Linked DNA regions of Homo sapiens: region 2 is linked to region 1. The links come from fine-mapping of genetic effects on plasma protein levels. A gene starts in region 1. The other region holds a variant in brackets. All regions are shown on one strand. Distances are from middle to middle.

Region 1 (8,731 bases):
AGTTGGAGACTGTAATGAAAAATAAAAGGAACTGTAAAGAAATCTTTAACTGTATTTAGTAAGTTTGTAGTTGGTAGTAGATTGGTATAGCAACTGTAAAATGATTTGGGGTTTAATGTAGATTAGGAAAATATACTGATGCTACTAAGAACAGAGTTCTCACTGTGGGAGTAAGGAGATGCAAATATGGAAGAGCAGAAGAGGCAGAAGAACTAAGCAGCAAGATTATTAGTGTTAGAAGTATCAGGGTGAACTCCTGACTTTGTAAAAACTCTATTTCTTAACTTTGAAAACTGACAAGGCTGAGAAGCAATGACTCTGGTACCTGTGGGCACACTTTGCACCCAGAACTTGATTTCTAAATACCATCTCTCACTAAAAGAAACCAGGGAACCTAATGATTCGAAGGCTGAGGCAGGAACACTACAAGATGAGTCCAGAACATCTTTCTGTGCCAGAAAGTAAGGAAGTGTTTAAAATCAAACAGGAACAAACAGAGCAAAAGGACTCTGAAGCTTGAAGGTGTTCCCACTTGTCAAATGTGGGGTTGCCGAGCATCAAAATGGATGACAGGAATGCCATATTTAAAAAAGAATCCATGAGTCCACATAACCTTCTAAAATAAAAGAAAAAAAGGGAGGATGTGTGTGCAAAAGCTATCCATTACTGAACAATGTAAACTAATAAATATATATATAGAGAGAAACAGAAGAGAAAATTGCTGGGTGGCTCATGCCTATAATCCCGACACTTTGGGAAACTGACTTGGGAGGATTGCTTGAGCCCAGGAGTTCAAGACCAGCCTGGGCAACATGGCAAAACCCCGTCTCTATAAAAAATACAAAAAAATTAGGTGGACGTGAAGGCATGTCCCTGTAGTCCCAGCTATTTGGAAACTGAGGTGGGAGGATCGCTTGAGTCTGGGAGATCAAGGCTGCAGTGAGCCATAATTGTGTCACTATACTCTAGCCTGGGCAACAGAGTGAGACTGTGTCTCAAAAGAAAAGAGAAAAGGCAATGAAACAAAGAAGGAAAGAAGGGAAGGGAAGGGAAGGGAAGGGAAGGGACAGGAAGGGAGGGGGAGGGGAGGGAAAGGGAGGGGAGGGGAGGGAGGGAGGGGAGGGGAGAGAGGAAGGATGGAAGGAAGGGAGGGAGGGAGAAGAAAGGGACAAGGGTGGGGGAAGAAAATTACCATTTGAAAATATTTTAGTGGCTGGATGTGGTGGTTCATGCCTGTAATCCCAACACTTCGGTAGGCCAAGGAGGGAGGATCACTTGAGCCCAGGAGTTTAAGACCAGTCTGGGCAACATAGGGAAACCCTGTTTCTACAAAAACTAAAAAAAAATTAGCCAAGCATGGTGGCATGCACCTGTAGTCCTGGCTACTCAGAAGGCTGAGGTGGCAGAATTGCTTGAGCCTCAGAGGTCGAGGCTGGAGTTAGCTGTGATAGCACCCCTGTACTCCAGCCTGGGTGACACAGTGAGACCCTGTCTCAAAAAATAAAATAAAATATTTTAGTGATAATGGATTCTGGGAAGAATCACCATAGGATACTAAAACCACTGAATGAACAATGGCTGGAGAACAGGATATTCACTCAACCTCAAAACATCACTTAACACATCATTTATTACTTACAAAGGTAAAATGGTGCCTCTACAATGGAGAAATCTGGTAAACTTCACTTTAACCAAATGTCAAAGTTAACATCTCCAATAATGTGACAAACAGACCACATCTTCCTGATGTGACACACTGAGAAGGACCCAACATAGCTATGAAGTATTCCTGCTACAAAGAGTTACAACCAGAATCTGATCATGAGGAAACAAGCAGGCAATCCACATCCAAAGGGACATTCGGTAAAGCAACTAGCCCAGACACTTCAAAAATGATGATGTCTTAAAGTACCAAAAAAAAAAAAAAAAAAAAGCAACAGTTTTAGGTTAAAGGGGGTTAAAAAGGCATGATTATCAAATGAAGTATGTGGTGCAGGACTGGCTTCTGGGTTCTCTACCAGGAAACAGTATTGTATCAATGCCACATTTCCAGATTATGATGATTCTGTGACTTGTTGGAGAATGCTCTTGTTCTTATGAGACATATGATAAAGAATTACAGGTGAGGTGTCATGAGATCTGAAACTCTCAAATGGTTTGGCAAAAATAACAGATGGCAAAAATAACAAAGAAAACTAATGTGACAGTTAACTGGTGATTCAAGGAGAAAGTACGCAAATGTTCACTGTACTAATTTTGCAACTGTCCTAAAGATTTTAATTGTTCTAAAATTTCAAAAAAAACCCTAAACTGAAGTATTAACGACTTCCATCACCCCTTTCTTTGCTTTACTCATCTCTGTACTAGTAAATGTTTACTTTATCACCATCCAGCATCCATGTTTTTACTCATTTACTTACTGTCTCTCTCCCTCACTATAAGGTGAGCTTCACAAAGGCAGGGAACTGTGCATAGCTTGCTGTATCCCCCGTCCATTGTGCAGTGCTTAACATATAATTGACACTCAGTAAATATTTATTGCATGACTGATGTTCCCAGTAATTCTATGAAGTGGGTTTATTATTCTCCTTTCCCTCATGTGAGTGGTACTCTCTTCAAAAGTGAAGGTACTGAAGTGAAGAGAAGTTAGGGAACTCACACAAGTTCATGACTCAGGTGAGGAGTGGGGCCAGGATCCAAAGCTAGGCATCTGACCCCAGAGCTGATGCTGTTAATCACTGCATTTGCAGCTTCCCTAATGAGGCAGGCTTGGGTCCCCAAAAGGGGATATACCCATTCAGTCTTGTCTTTAGTTTAAGGCCTATGCAGAGCAGTTTATAAATACATGTTTGCTGAATCAAATGACTTCTGAATGAATACATGAATTAGGTGAGAGAGATCACCAGGAAGGGACAGTTCAAATAATCTGTTGGAGGTGGAGCTTGGGCAAACTGGGTTTGCAGTGGAAGGGAGAACACAGGTACAGGCAGCAGTGACCCAAGGTGCCAGGGAATGAGGGACCAGCTTGCCTGGAGGAGAGTTACCCCATCCATTCAATTAATCCCTGTTTGTATCTCTTCTTTTCCCCAGCCACCCGCACATGAACTCCCCAGAGCTATTTGGGCCCTGTGATGGTAGTCCACCCTGGCCTTCTGGCCTCCCTGCCTCCAATTCCTCCTGACTGCAGCCTTCCTCTTTGTTGCTAACAGATTCTTCTTCCCAGGCGCATGGTCCTGATCCTGTAAGGCCCAGGAGAAGCTCTCTCAGCTCAGAGAATCCAGACTCCCTAAGGGGACACTCAGCAATCTTTTCCCACATTATCACATGTCCACACATCACCAGTCCTTGAAGGCTGGGCTCAAATATCCTCCCTCCCATGAAGACTGCTTCACAAAAGACACTTGATTTCACAAAAGAGACTGCCTTCTTCTTCCCTCTGTACCCTCACAGCTCACCTTTTTTTTTTTTTTTTTTTTTTGAGACAGGTCATATTCTGTCACCCAGGCTGGAGTTCAGTGGCACAATCACAGCTCACTGCATCCTCTGCCTCCGGGACTCAGGTGATTCTCCCACCTCAGCCTTCCGAGTAGCTGGGACTATAGGTATGCGCCACCACGCTCAGCTAATTTTTGTATTTTTTGTAGAGCCGATCTTTCACCGTGTTGGCCCTGCTGGTCTCCGATTCCTGGCCTCAAGTGATCCACCTGCCTCAGCCTCCCAAAGTGCTAGGATGACAGGTGTAAGCCACCACGCCCAGCCCAGGCCTCTTACAACACTGACTTATCTGATCGTGCGGGTACTTTTGAGTCTATCTCAACCCCTCCCCCTTGGCTGTCTTCCATAGATGCACACGCGCACCTCCCGGGCAGGCAGCGGACGCTGAGCAAACGGACGGACGGGCTGGAGGGCTGGCAGTGGGGTGCAGGAGCCAGCCATGAGAACCCCTCAAGTACAGTTGAACTCGCTGGGAGGTTACTGCTGTACTCCCGGGGTTTTGCTATGGCCTGACTGGGGCCAATGTGTGGAGGGTGAAGGAGGATGGGGAGGCAAAATGGGAAGAAGGGGACCTATTTCCTGAGGTTGTTGTGACGACTTGGCTGACAACACACGGAGAGGATGGAACCAGTTCTGATACTAGTTTTTAGGATTTGAGGGGAGGAAAAAGGAGCAGGAGTCGCACCACTTAGGAATCCCAACGTGAGGCCGCTGCCGACTGGGCTTCCTAGTTGCCTACCCGCTCCTCGCTGTGGGGCGATTCTGAAAAGTCCTCTCTGCTGATACGGCGGACGCCGCGCGGGCGGGGACGGCACCGCGCGGGGAGGGCAGCAGGCGTCGCCCTCGAGCAGGTGGCATCCGCGCCCGCTCCCCGTCCCGGGCGCGTTCACGGCTGGGAAAAATTTTGCAGTCCGCTGAAGCGCTCAGCGACGTTACTGGGGAAGCCCAGGAAGGAACTTGGTCACTGGAGCTCGGGAGGGGGCCGGCGGGGGGGCGCAGGCCCCGCAGGAGAGGCTAGCGGGCCGGAGCCCGTCCTTCCCTAAGGCCACACAGTTCCTTGCTGACTCCATGAGGGACACTGGCGATGAAATAACAACTTTCTCTTCCTGAAAAGGCTCCCACGGCTGAGTTGTTCCCGGCCCACAGCGACCCGTCCCCACCCGTCTCTGATCGGCAACCGCCTCGAGCCCGGCGCGTCCACCCAGCCTGGGTGCTGCCCAGTACCCGCCGGCCGGCGCGGGGCCCCTGGGGCAGGCTTCACTCACCAAAGCAGTGCAGCAGGCAGACCACGCTGAGGACCCCCAGGGCCCGCCCCGCGTCGCTCCCAGCAACCATGGCTCGTCGGGCCGGCCTCTGCGCGAGTGCCCAGCCACAAGCAGCCCTAAGTTCAAGCACCGCCTACGCGGTCGGCCAGAAGTAGGGCTCCGCCCCGCCCTGGGCTGGCAGCCGGCGGCCCGCCCCGGCCCTTCCTCCCCCACCCTCCGCGGCGCCGCGTTTGTCTTCGCGCTTCCACTCCCCGGGCGCGCCTCTGGCCTCGGCTCTGCGCGCCTCCTTCCTGTGTCCCCGGGGCGCCGTCCAGTCCCCCAGCTCGGTCCCTCCCGTCATTCCGCCGCCATTCCATACGCTATTTTTAAGTAAGAAATTCTTTCCTTGAAAATGGCTTGGTTTTAAAAACCAAGGTTTTAAAGTAAGAAATTCTTTCCTTGAAAATGGCTTGGTTTTAAAAACCAGGTTTCTCTGCCTTCCTACCGCACCTCCCGCGCTTCCCCTTAGCGTTTGGGGCGTGCTGTAGGCCCCTCCGTGGCTAGACGGGGCTGTGGCTCCCAGAGAGCCACCGGAGGAGGCAGCAGGACGGGCGGGAGCACCCGGGGCCCCTCATCCCTTCAGCGCTGTGTGATCCCGCATCAGACGGCCTCTTTGAACCACTTTTCCTCAAACATGACAAGGAAAGGGAGCATTTTAGACAACTGTTAGGCGTAGGGTTACCTGAGGCAGGCCTCCCCCGTCCCCATACTCCCTTATCCCCGGAGCTGGGATTTCCAGCCTTTGGTTTCTCCCTTCTCAGATTCCTCTTTTTCTGTCTTCCCCCATCTCAACCGGGACTTTCCCTCAGGCTGAGATGTCAGATCCACATCTCCCTCACTGCCCAGCCTCCCCACATCCATCCAGCCCAAGCTGAGGCAGGCACTCATCACTCTCCCCGCTCTTCATCAGTCTGGATTGAGCTGGCCCTCCCCTCACATCCCTATATCCCAGAACAAATGACCCTATTCCCAGAACCAGCTCCTCACATCAGCCTCCCTGTCTGTCCCCTTTCTTGCAGACAGAAGCACCAGAGTTGCCCCTGCCCAGCTGAGGGAGTTCACAGAACTCTTAGTTATTATGTGAGCAGGAATCCATTTCCATGAACAGGACTCCCTGCTGCCCAAATAACCACCAACACATACATGGTGCAGGTTGTGAAACTGAGTGGGAATGTGCTTTCTTGCTGCTTCACCTCCATTATCCCCAGGTGGGGACTCGAAGTCACTCAAGACACTTGAACCATATTGCAAAGAGACATGAATTATTTCTTAAGTTAGCCATAAAATCTTAAAAGGTATCTCTATCAGTGAAACTTCTGGGACCAATGCCCTCTACCACAAACCTGCTATCTCGAGATATTCCCTACCATCTGTAGATACTGGGAACACAAGGCAGGGGCAGTGTGTAACATAAAATATGAGGAAATCAAGTGTTCTCTGCCCTGGGCTGGTAGGAACTCAGGCCAACTTAGAAAGGCAGGATGGGGTTAGACCTTCAGACACTGGGGAGCCACAGAAAGTTTTTGAGCTGGGAAGTGATATGACAGCAAACATCTATTGAGCAGGCCCTGTGTGAAGTGCATTGCTTGGATTAACTTAGTCTTACTGCTGCTGTTGTTTTTGCAAATGAGGAAACTGATGCCTGGGGAAGGTAAATTACTCAGGGCACACAGTAAAGGGCAGAACTTGGAGTCCAGCTGAGGCCATGTCCAATGCCTCTACTCTTATCCCTTCATACAGGAACGGGATATGATAATGGGACTTTTGGACTGACAGCTATGCAGCCATTTGGACTGCCAGCAAGAGCTGTTAAGCCCCTTAAGAGCAGGGCTGAGGAAAGAACAGCCCAGTCACATGGGGCTGGGGAAGCCCCTCACCCCCAGGTCATGGTCTCCAGGTATTGGGTGAGGAATAACTCATTAGGCTTCCTTGGTTGGACTCTCCTTTGACCAAGGAGCAGTGCCTGCTCTTTCATTGAGAGAAATGCTGTCCATCAAGCACTTTTAGAAGCCCTCAAATGCCTGGTTAATTTTATGAATCAAAAGCAGCTCAGGAATGCTGGACCTGCAATGCGTTAAGCAGGCAGCCAAAAAGATTCCCTTTACATACTGAGAACCTGCTATCAAAAGGAGGGGTGGATGTATTTTTCATGCTGTGACTAGTATTGCAAGGTCCAGTTTTATCTTCTTGTCACTGTAGATAATCATGGATGAGAAAGTAAGAAAAGAGGGCAGCTGAAGAGGCCGGGGCTGTTCTTCCTAGCATGCCACTCTCTGGTGTCTTGACTCTCGTTTCTGCCAAACCTTTGGAACTACTCCCACAAAGCTTAGGAATCCCAGAATGTAGTGAGCAAAACACTGCTCAATCCTGCATAAATGCAAATTGTCATTTTCATTGCATGCCTCATGAGGGAACATACATTCATTTATATAAATACTGGTTGGATTTGCACGAAGGACATAGAAGGGTAATCTTATTCCATAATACTCTATTTCCCTTTTTAAAACATACCCTGGCAGAAAAAGAACATTAGAAAAAAATTAGGAAAAATTATACATAAGACTTAACATGGAACCATTATGGGTACCCAAGGGAGAGGCAGTCACATTTTCAACTCCTGGCCAAGCCAGCAGCTGCAAGGAGTTGATAAGGATGCAGCCAATGGTTCTGGGAGCAGAGGAAAGCACACACGAAAGCTTTTGAAAGTCTTGGATTTAGAAAAAGAAGAAAAAAAGAAGTGTCTCCCTCTGCTTCTTACTATCTAGTTCCTTTTTGCATATTCTATGAATTTTAAAGAATTATAGATGGGTTCTGACTAATCACGTATCACTGCTATGGTTTTAATCATTCTAACATTCTTCTCAATTTGCAGATGTAAACCCCTCCCAACACTGGAAGAGGAAACAGAGACCAGTGCGCTGTGCAGTCTCACTTAACTAGAATGCACAACTCCTGCTTTTATCACCATTCTGGGAAATCCCCGCTGCATTTCATGGCCAGGGCAGCACTTCATAGTTGGAAAAGGATGGTGTGGACTTGCCGCAGAGGCCCTAGAGAAGGCCATCCTGTGTTCCTGCTCTCCTTCTCATCCGGCTTCTACCCCCACCCCACCCCCCAACAAAAACGCTACAGGTTATAAGATCTACATTCTGAACCTGGCTTTCAGGGGCTAGGTGTGTTGTGTGTTGCACAGCTCTAGAGGTAGCATAGCCTTGATCATCGGGGTGGAGGTGTCTATTTACTATATGTTGCAGCAGATGGCAGTGAAGTGTCTTGAGGAAGAGGTGTTTTTATCATTTGAAGGTTATGGGGTGTAATAATAAAGACTGCAATTCACAGACCTTGAGCCTAGCAGGCCAATGCCAAGGGCAGAACTGTAGGCTCCCACAGCACAGTTCCACAGAGGAAGGGGGCTGGTTAGTAAGGGGAAAGAAGGATAGAAGACTGCAGTAAATGTAAACAGCCGTATTTTCAACATAATTTACTACAGGTCTCTGAAGTGTATATAAAATGTTTTAGTGCAACATCTTACAAATAGTTTTCCTTTAAAAAAACAGAAACAAATCAACAGCTCTCTACATCATGCATGGGTAGTTTTCTTACCCCATCTTTTTTTTTCCTCAATAATTAACGCAGAGAAACCATTGTTTGAAAAGAATATGAAAACTTGCTACAGAAACACCCGGTGAAAGAGGGTGTGGTCATATTCATGTCCTAGAATGCGCCTAGCACAGTGTAGTTTTTCATAAATGCAACATTGTAGACATAGATGAATCCAGAGTATTCAGCAGTTTTCCTCCGTCTCAGAAGACTAAAGCTCCAGTAGACAATGCGCAATGAGGTCTCACAGCCACTGGAGGGCACCATTACCATCCATCTGACATCGCATTTCCATAGAAATGGCCAAAGAAAGAAGGTCCTGGGGTTTTTCA
Region 2 (8,593 bases), 39 kb before region 1:
CAAATTCCACTTGTTCATTGCTGTTATAGAAAAGTGATTGACTTTTGTATATTAACTTTGTATCCTACAAATGTGCTATAGTTTTTTATTAGTTCCAGGAGGTTTTTGGTCAATTCGTTTGGATTGTATACATAGATATTCATGTCATCTGAGAACTAAAACAATTTTCTTTCTTTCTTCTCATCTGTATAACTTTTATTTCCTTTTCTTGTCTTATGGCATTAGTTAGTGCTTATAGTACAATACTGAAAAGGAGTGGTGAGAAGAACATTATTTCCTTATTCTTGGTCTTAGTTGGAAAGCTTCAAGTTTCTCACCATTACAGATGATGTTAGCTGCAGGGTTTTTTGTAGGCATTTGTTAACAAGTTGAAAAAGTTTCCCCTCTATTCCTAGTTTACTGAGAGTTTTTATCATAAATTGATGTTGGATTTTGTCAAATGCTTTTTCTGTATCTATTGGTATGATCATGTGATTTTTCTTTCATAGTCTGTCAATGTGATGGATTACATTAATTGATTTTCATATGTTGAACCTGCCTTGCACACCTGAGATAAATACCACTTAGTCATGATGTATAATTCTTTCTATATGCTGTTGGATCCAATTTGCTAATATTTTGTTTAAGGTTTCTACATGTATGTTCATGAGAAATATTTGTCTTAATTTTCTTTTCTTGTATTGTTCTTTGGTTTTAGCACAAGAATAATGCTGGCCTCATAAAATGAATTGGAAAGTATGCCCTCTGCTTCTATCTTCTAAAAGAGATTATAGAGAATTAGTATTTCTTCCTTAAATATCTGGTAGAATTCACCAATGAACCCATCTGAACCTGGTGCTTTCTGTTTTGGAAGATTATTAATTACTGATCTGATTTATTTAAACTGCCAGGCTGAAGTGATCCTCCCACCTCAGTCTCCCAAGTAGCTAGGACTACAGACACATGCCACAACACCTCAGTAACTTTTTAATTTTTAGTAGAGATAGGGTCTCCCTATGTTGCCCAGGCTGGTCTCGAACTCTCAGCCTCAAGCAATCCTCCCGTCTTGGCCTCACAAAGTGTTGGGATTATAGGCATAAGCCACTGCACGCAGCGTTCTTTCTCAATTTTTAAAAGCAGAGTGAACATTCTTAATCACTATTCTTCCCAGTGGAAAGTCATAAAAGTCACAAGAGACCAACTTAAATCAGTCCAAAAATCCTCCTACTTCTGTTTCTGCCTGTTACATTTCATCTGGTTCAAACTTTGTTCAAATATTCTTAACATTCTTTATCTCAGTCTACATAATATTATTTCCTATGTTGCATTTCTTTCCTTCTTCTCCTTTTTCCTATTTCCGCATATTTTTGTGTTTCTATGATGAATTTTTCCAATTTCTCTCTTTTTTCTTAGGAGTAAGATCAAAGGGTGTTTTTTTGAGGCTCTACCTTCAGTGACTTACTCCCTGCAGGTAACATAATGTCCACACAGCTATGAAAGAAAGATCATCTAGTTGAACTCAGAACAATGTTTGTTCTACATAACTTCAGGTCGGAACTGAACAATGTTTCTTTTATGTTCTTGGTCCATAAATGTGTACAACAGTTGGAAACTGGTACTCTAGAGAATATCCTCTTGCCTACCCCTTCAAAAAATGTGCCCTTTCCCTAGGCTCCCATTTAGAGTTCTGTGTCAATGTGGAGGGTGTTACAATCATCCTACTTCTTCCCAGCAGTTATCTAAAAGAGAATGGTGAAGTGCACTGGGTTTCTTTACCTGGAAATAGCCTTTGACTCTCAAAGGTACTCAGATTTTATTTTCCTCTTTCACAGCCAAATATATAACTGGCCTATTGGACTACCCCTCTTCTTACTTAAAGCCCAGGAATCTGGTTCCTACCCTCATCTATTCACAAGGTCTGTCAACAATGACCTCCTAAGTGCCAAATCCACAACCTCTTCTACATTGTCCTCCTTAAACCATTGGCTGTATATAATGTTATACCAAATGTCCTCTCTTGAAACTCTTCCTGTATCCTGAATAACAACTAGCAGTTTTATAGTGACTAACCATCAATACTCTTTCCCACATGCTATTTTATTTAATTTCCTCAGCCCTTGTAAAGTAAGTATTATTATCCCCCACATTCACACTGCCAGTAAGCAATGAAATCAGGTCTAGGACCTAGGTTTTCTTGCTCCCAATCCCATGTTCTCTTCTATCCAGAATTTTCTCCTGCCCTCAACTTCTCAATTTTCTAATCTGTATAAGTCTGTCTATATTCACGTGCTGCCATAAACCAGCTTTCTGACCTTGAGATCTCTGAACATCTGTAGCATGGGCATAAAACCTCCATGCTATCTACTCTGACCGCAGATAAGGAGATAAGGAGGAGCAAAATGTAGGAGCATGACACAAAGGCAAGAAATAATTGCTCACTAGCTTTCTTTCCATCTCCCAATGCCTTGGAGCTGCAATTTTCAAACGGTTAACCAATGGAAGTAAATTCCAAATTCCAGATTATAATTCTCCATCTCTGAGTCATCTTCTTACTTTTACTTCCCAGTACAGTGGGGAAGACACAGTGCTTTGAGTTCAGATGGAGTTGGATGTCAAATCCTGGCTTTGCTCTTAATAAATGTGTATATTTGGTCAAGTTATTTAACCTCACTGTGCCTCAGATTCCTCCTTTATAAATACCCACACCACTGGGTTGTTGTGTGGATTAAATGTGACACATTTATGTAAATCATTTACAGGAGTTTGTTGTGGAGCAGGCCTTCAGTAAGTATTAGTTCATTCCCCCAGTACAATACGAGTTGGACAAGAACTCTGTCCTCAATCTTAACTGTCTCTAAAATTCTCCTTTAGATTGTGTTTAACTAGTTAGTAACCCCATCGCCCCATTTCTGGGTTGCAGTGACGGTATGACAGTAGATGTCATGACTAAAATGATGACAAACCACAAAAAGGTCCTACTAGACAAAATGTTACAAGAAACATGAGATAATGAGGTAAAAAATTAAGTTACATTTGACCAATATCTACTATGTATATCTATATAGTATGGGTTTCTCTAGCTCATTCATATGAATAAATCAAAGAAAACTTTAAAATTTGATTTATTTTGAAACGTATAGAGAGTCAGGATGGTATCATACAAAAACACTCTGGAATTCAAAGACCTAAATTTTAATTCTATCTCCAATACTTAAGTGACCCTGGGCAAGTCACCCCACCTGGTTGACCCTGTCTCCTCATTCTTTTTTTTTTTTTTGAGACGGAATCTCACTCTGTCACCCAGGCTGGAGTGCAGTGGTGTGGTCTCAGCTCACTGCCAGCTCCGCCTCCCGGGTTCATGCCATTCTCCTGCCTCAGCCTCCCAAGTAGCTGGGACTACAGGTGCCCACCAACACACCTGACTAATTTTTTGTATTTTTAGTACAGACGGGGTTTCACCGTGTTAGCCAGGATGGTCTTGATCTCCTGACCTCGTGATCCACCCGCCTCAGCCTCCCAAAGTGTTGGGATTACAGGTGTGAGCCACCGCACCCGGCTACCTGTCTCCTCATTCTTAAAAGGTAAGTAACAACTGTCTGGCCAATCTAAAATGATAGTGGTGAGGAGCAAATGAGGCATTTATTTGAAGGGTTTGCTAAAGGAGAGCAGGCTAGTCAATGTGAGTTAGTTTGCTTCACTGATAAAGCATTGGAAAGTTTAGATGAGAAATCAAAACCTGAAAAAGTAAGATCTAGTATTTAACTGTTATACTTTCATGGATTTGTATCTATTATGATGCATGTGGTTCCACACAAAAGCATTCAAAAATCATCTCAGAAAAAAAAAGATCCTAGACTGTTACTGTTCAAAAGAACCATTAAGATCATTAAGTTCAGCTCCTGGTTTGCATTTTAAAAGGAGAAGGTCCTCCAATATTTGGTTAACAGAAACCAGGGTCAGAAGCCCAGACATATGTCTCAGATGTCAACACTACTCCAGGATTTAAACCTAAGACCTATCAAGCAACATTCCTCAAACTTTCAAAATCTGTTGTATATATGTGAACTATCAATTTGGAAGAAAATGTAAAAGAAGGATAAATCACCATTATTTAATAATTAAAAGAATTTTTTCAAATTAATAGTACTTATTTCAAATCAATAAGAGGAATATCATTCCTCTTATGATCTTTTACCAGACTATTTACAGGGAAAGTAATCTTACTTTCAGTAAGAGTAATTTTACTTTGTGTCTTCAAATTCTAATGGCAAACATAAAGTTAAACATAAAGTTTTGCAAGGGCAAAACCTTTAAAAATCCCCTAAAATATTCCATGTAATTCTATAGAGGGATCTTACTCAGAAATTATTTCCTTCAAGTATTTTGTCTCTTGGAACACTTAAAACTTTTCAAGATTTCAACTTGCTTGCTCTGTCTATATGTGGTCATCTTCTTCCCCCTTGTCAGTTAGATGCAGCACACATATACCAAAAGGCAAAAGCACACTGGTTTTATTTTTTGTTGTTCCCATTATAAAGCAACTATCTGCTTTTACAACAAATTGCATTTCCATATCGTATGCCTTGGGTATTATGTAACACTCAAAAGGTGGAATTAATAAAGGAATGTTTGCTCCAAGCTTAACTATTTTAACTTTGCAGCTCGTTTTAAAAACTTCTTGCAATTGTGTGACTTGTACAAACAGTGCTCCTTTGAGTGACACCTCTGTGGGTTTGATCTTTTCTCTGTCTTCAAAAATCAAATCTATCAGTTATAAATTGGGACTCATTTGCACTTTTTCTTTTTTTTCTCCGTGTTTCATAACTTTAATAGAATATTCTAACTATTATGTACAAATTGAAAACACTGTATTCAGTTATAAATGTGTTCTAAGGTTAGGCTGAGCACTCTCTACAGGCCTGGTCAGCGCGGACAAGGCCATCCCCGGCTGCCACAGAGCGCTGTCACCCACTTGGAAACCCCACTCACCAGCCACCAACCGGTCACACCAACCAGGACCTTCAGACAGGATGAATGGTGGGGCCCAGCAATGGGACTACTGAGAAAGCAGGACTTGACGCTCATATGCTCAAATGAAACGCAGGACTTCCCAGCCCAGCCCCTCACTGGAGAACACTGCCGAATCCCAACTCCGGCAGCAGGGCGGTGCCTGTGTCACGAGGACAGGCTCGCGTCTTCAGCCCTGGTGGCAGGAAGCAGTGTTTCTTCCGCACAGCCCTTGCTCCTGCTAGGAAGTGGCACATCTTCCTGCTCAGGTCACCAGGGTGGTTCAGAAATGGCAAGGACGAGCGACAGCAAAAGGCCGCAGTCCTCACAGGCAAGAAGGGATAAATAAATATGAGGTGACCCGTGGCAGCTCTCGCCTGAGCTGGTGTGCCACAACCCTGACCCAACCCTTAAAAAAGAAGATCAAAAAGCAACATCCTAAGGAGAATACGGCCCTACTCTACACGGCCCTTCTGAGATGATTAGCATACAGCAGGTGATGCAGGCTGCACACTCAGCAGATTAAGCAGCTGAAAACAGCGAGTGGGTTTCTTCAAATGAAAGGAAAGAATTCAGTCCAACTGCAGGAGTGGTAGGAGAGGTTCTAGATCCCTGGAACCTCATCACCAGACCTCGGCCCTTTTAGCCAAGTGATCCCCACCCCATCCCACCCCACCCCAATGGGGTCTATGGGGCCCTCCCGCAGGGAAGGGTCCAGGCAAGTCCAGAGCTACAGGCACCAAGGCTGCAGAGGGTATTGGACAAAACCTCCTATTTCTGAAATGCATTTCAGTTGCCACTGTACACATTAAGCAAAATAATAAGGAAAAAGGAAAAGTGAAAGTGAAAATCATGCACTTGAAAACGATTAGATGGAGTAAGCGCTGTCGACGGGATTGTGC[C/T]GCATGCGGCAAAGACTGAGGCCTCCCGCTACAGGCCCGGAGTCGCGACAGCCGGTCTGCCAGGCGCCCACCTCCACTTCCTACTGCTGCTTGCATTCCGCCGGCTGGCTGGGTTCCTTGTTGGGATTAATTTCCACCTCATCCTCATCTTCTCCCTCCTCATCACCTTCTAATTCGTCCTCTTCTTCTTCACCTTCGTCAAAATTGTCATCATCCTTTAAGGCCTCCCCAGCGAAGTACAGCACAGCCTGTGGTCCGCTCACGGAAAAAGTGTCCAATTTCAAAATCAGAGGCTAATACGAATTCAGAATCTTTATCCAGTGATTCTCCGTCCCCAGATGCTTTCAGTGGATTGAAGAAGTTGAAAAATGACTCATTGGATACTTGTTTGGTAATTGTTCTAACAGTGCCTGGACCCTTACGCTTCTGCTTTTTCTTGATGGTTTTGACAGTAACATTCTTTCCTTTCTTCCAGTCAATAGTACACCCATCGCAGTCCATGATCTCAGGACCTGCAAATGAAAAGGGATCAGCCTTATCTGGTTCTGATTTCATCTTGCAGGTTTTTGTCAGGACTGAGTTGGCAAAGCAGTCATTGGGTTGAAAGTGGAACTCTTAATATGAAAGACATAGGCTGTCCAGGGTCAGAAAACTTCACTTTAATATCCTGCAGGTATTTCAAGATTGGTTCATCATATTCCTGGACTAATTCACTTAGCATATCTACATTTCTAAAGATGGTAAACCAGAACTCTGGAATTCCTTTGGGATTTGGCTCTTCAGCTGTTGCTGCTGCTTTTTCTGTTATGACTACTTTATTTTTCCTGTCTCCAGCCAATTTCTCCTCCTCTTCATTTTCACGGTGCCATTCTGATTCCATATCAGATGTTGGTTCAACATCACCGGTGATAAATTCTCTTCTCTCGTCAAAGAGAGGCTGGTATAATGCTGCATATTTTCTTTCCAAGTCATGAACTTCTTCATAGAACTTGGCTTCTATATGAGCGCATCTCACCTGAATTTGTTTCAATGCATTAATTCTTCTTTTTACTGCTTTAGGTAAAGTTTCGATGTAGCTGGAAGGGGTGTGAGGGGCATTGTCAAGTCGCTCCTGTAAAGCTGCCAAAACTCCAGGATTCTGCATCACCTGATCCGTGAGCTTTTCCGTCTTACTTGCATTTTTAGCAGCTTCCACGAAATCTGAAGGAACCCCATCTGAAAAACTGTTATCTGCCATCTGAATGTTTTTATCCCCTTGTCTGGTAAACCAAGTCCCGTGAGTAACTAGGCTAAGGCACTCAGGCCAGTCCTCGGGGAGCACACGCCGCCCATCTGGCTCGCACCGCACAGCTCCCAACAGCTGAGATGCAATGCCAAGGACTTTCTTCCCCATCAGACATGCCCTCGTCCACACGAAACTTACAATCAAAACCCCAGTTAGCCCAGCCTGACCCCACAGATGCTCACGATGACCATCGCCCTACGGAAAAACTCAAATTCCTAAACATCTAATAAAGAGGTCCTGGACGTCTCCACCTTAAAAACGGGAAGCCTGAATGCTCCTCCGGGTGCGCCGCGGCCCTCCGGGTACGCGGGGCTGGCTGGGCTAGCGGGAGATTTGAGCTGCCAGCCCCCACTCGCCGCCCTCTACGCCTCCTCCGCTGGGCCGCCGGCGAGGAAGCCGCCCGCAGCGCAGAACAAAGCGACTTGACCTTCAGGGCAGTGGGCGGCAGGGCAGGGGCGCACCGGGTGCTGGGAGGGGCCGCTCCAGGCCCCAAGCCCCAGGCCCGCCGCGGCGGCGCTGCCCACCCTGACGAGGACGTCTACTTTTTCTTGAAAAATGTCTTTCCTTTCCCAAAAGTGACTCTGCTTTGTCTGAAAATAATATAACTTTAATGGCTTTAAGTTATTGTTTGAAAGGGTTCAGAAAAGACAATAAATGGGAGACTTAGAATGGCTCACCAGTTAAAATCCAAGTTTCATATATTTCTTGTATTTGCTAATTTCCCTTATCTGTTTCAGCTGCTTGTTCAGAAAAATTTCATTCATAGACTCACCTTATCCCAGCCCTAGAGACTCATATTCTCTATTTGCCCTGGAATCCTGTTCACTATTTACAATTATATTATTCTGAATAATAGTATTTACTATTTTCGTCTCTTTTATATTTTAATAAACCACTTTCAAGTCACTGACCTTTTTGTTTGTTAAACTGGGGATATAATGTAAAAAACAGATAATAAAAATTACAAATGTAAATAATACTAAAACAACATTAGAAAATCATAGCCAAGACAGATTGTCATGATATTAACTTAGTGTTAGGCCTAAGGAAACATATCAAATGCATGTTCCTGTAGTAGATATGTAACCTTTCAGAACATAATGATATTATAACAATATTATAAAGCAGCATTGTGAATAGTTAAAACCATGGGCTCTAGAGCCAGATAGCCTCTACTCAAAGCCAGGTTCTGCCACTTACTAGCTGTTACCTTGAGCAAACAACTTAAACTCTCTCTCTGTTGGTTTCTCACCAGGAAACAGGGATAAGTACTAGTACACAACTTATAGGTTGTATGAGGATTGATGTGAAGATTGAATTAATTAACATATGTATTAGAATGGTGCTCAACACAGAAAGTGCTAAATAATGTTAGCTTTGTATCTATAATGGGGTTTCTGTTAAAAATTGTAACTTGTTG

What was found. PIP is the posterior inclusion probability: the model's chance that the variant is causal. Protein levels are from antibody-based Olink assays in UK Biobank. Linkage for the fine-mapping came from a reference panel and not from the study's own genotypes, which makes the PIPs less certain.
Region 2: its variant is fine-mapped to the plasma level of the CD58 protein (UK Biobank, PIP 0.94).

What each region holds. Positions count from the first base shown.
Region 1 is chr1:116,566,143-116,574,873 of GRCh38, forward strand. It overlaps CD58 (CD58 molecule), which reads right to left and starts at 4,884. Exons shown (of 6, transcript NM_001779.3): 1 at 4,761-4,884. The coding sequence starts at 4,830. It overlaps IGSF3 (immunoglobulin superfamily member 3), which reads right to left. Exons shown (of 11, transcript NM_001007237.3): 11 at 8,266-8,731. LOC124904385 (a long non-coding RNA gene) reads left to right here and starts at 4,833. Exons shown (of 2, transcript XR_007066497.1): 1 at 4,833-4,911; 2 at 7,672-8,608. RefSeq lists enhancers at 3,956-4,015, 7,899-8,188 and silencers at 4,486-4,555, 4,626-5,085.
Region 2 is chr1:116,526,968-116,535,560 of GRCh38, forward strand. All of the region lies in intron 3 of CD58 (CD58 molecule), which reads right to left. It also overlaps the pseudogene NAP1L4P1. Among named protein-coding and RNA genes, the nearest start is that of MIR548AC, 29 kb to the right of the region's middle. The variant C/T (reference allele first, on the strand shown) is at 5,889.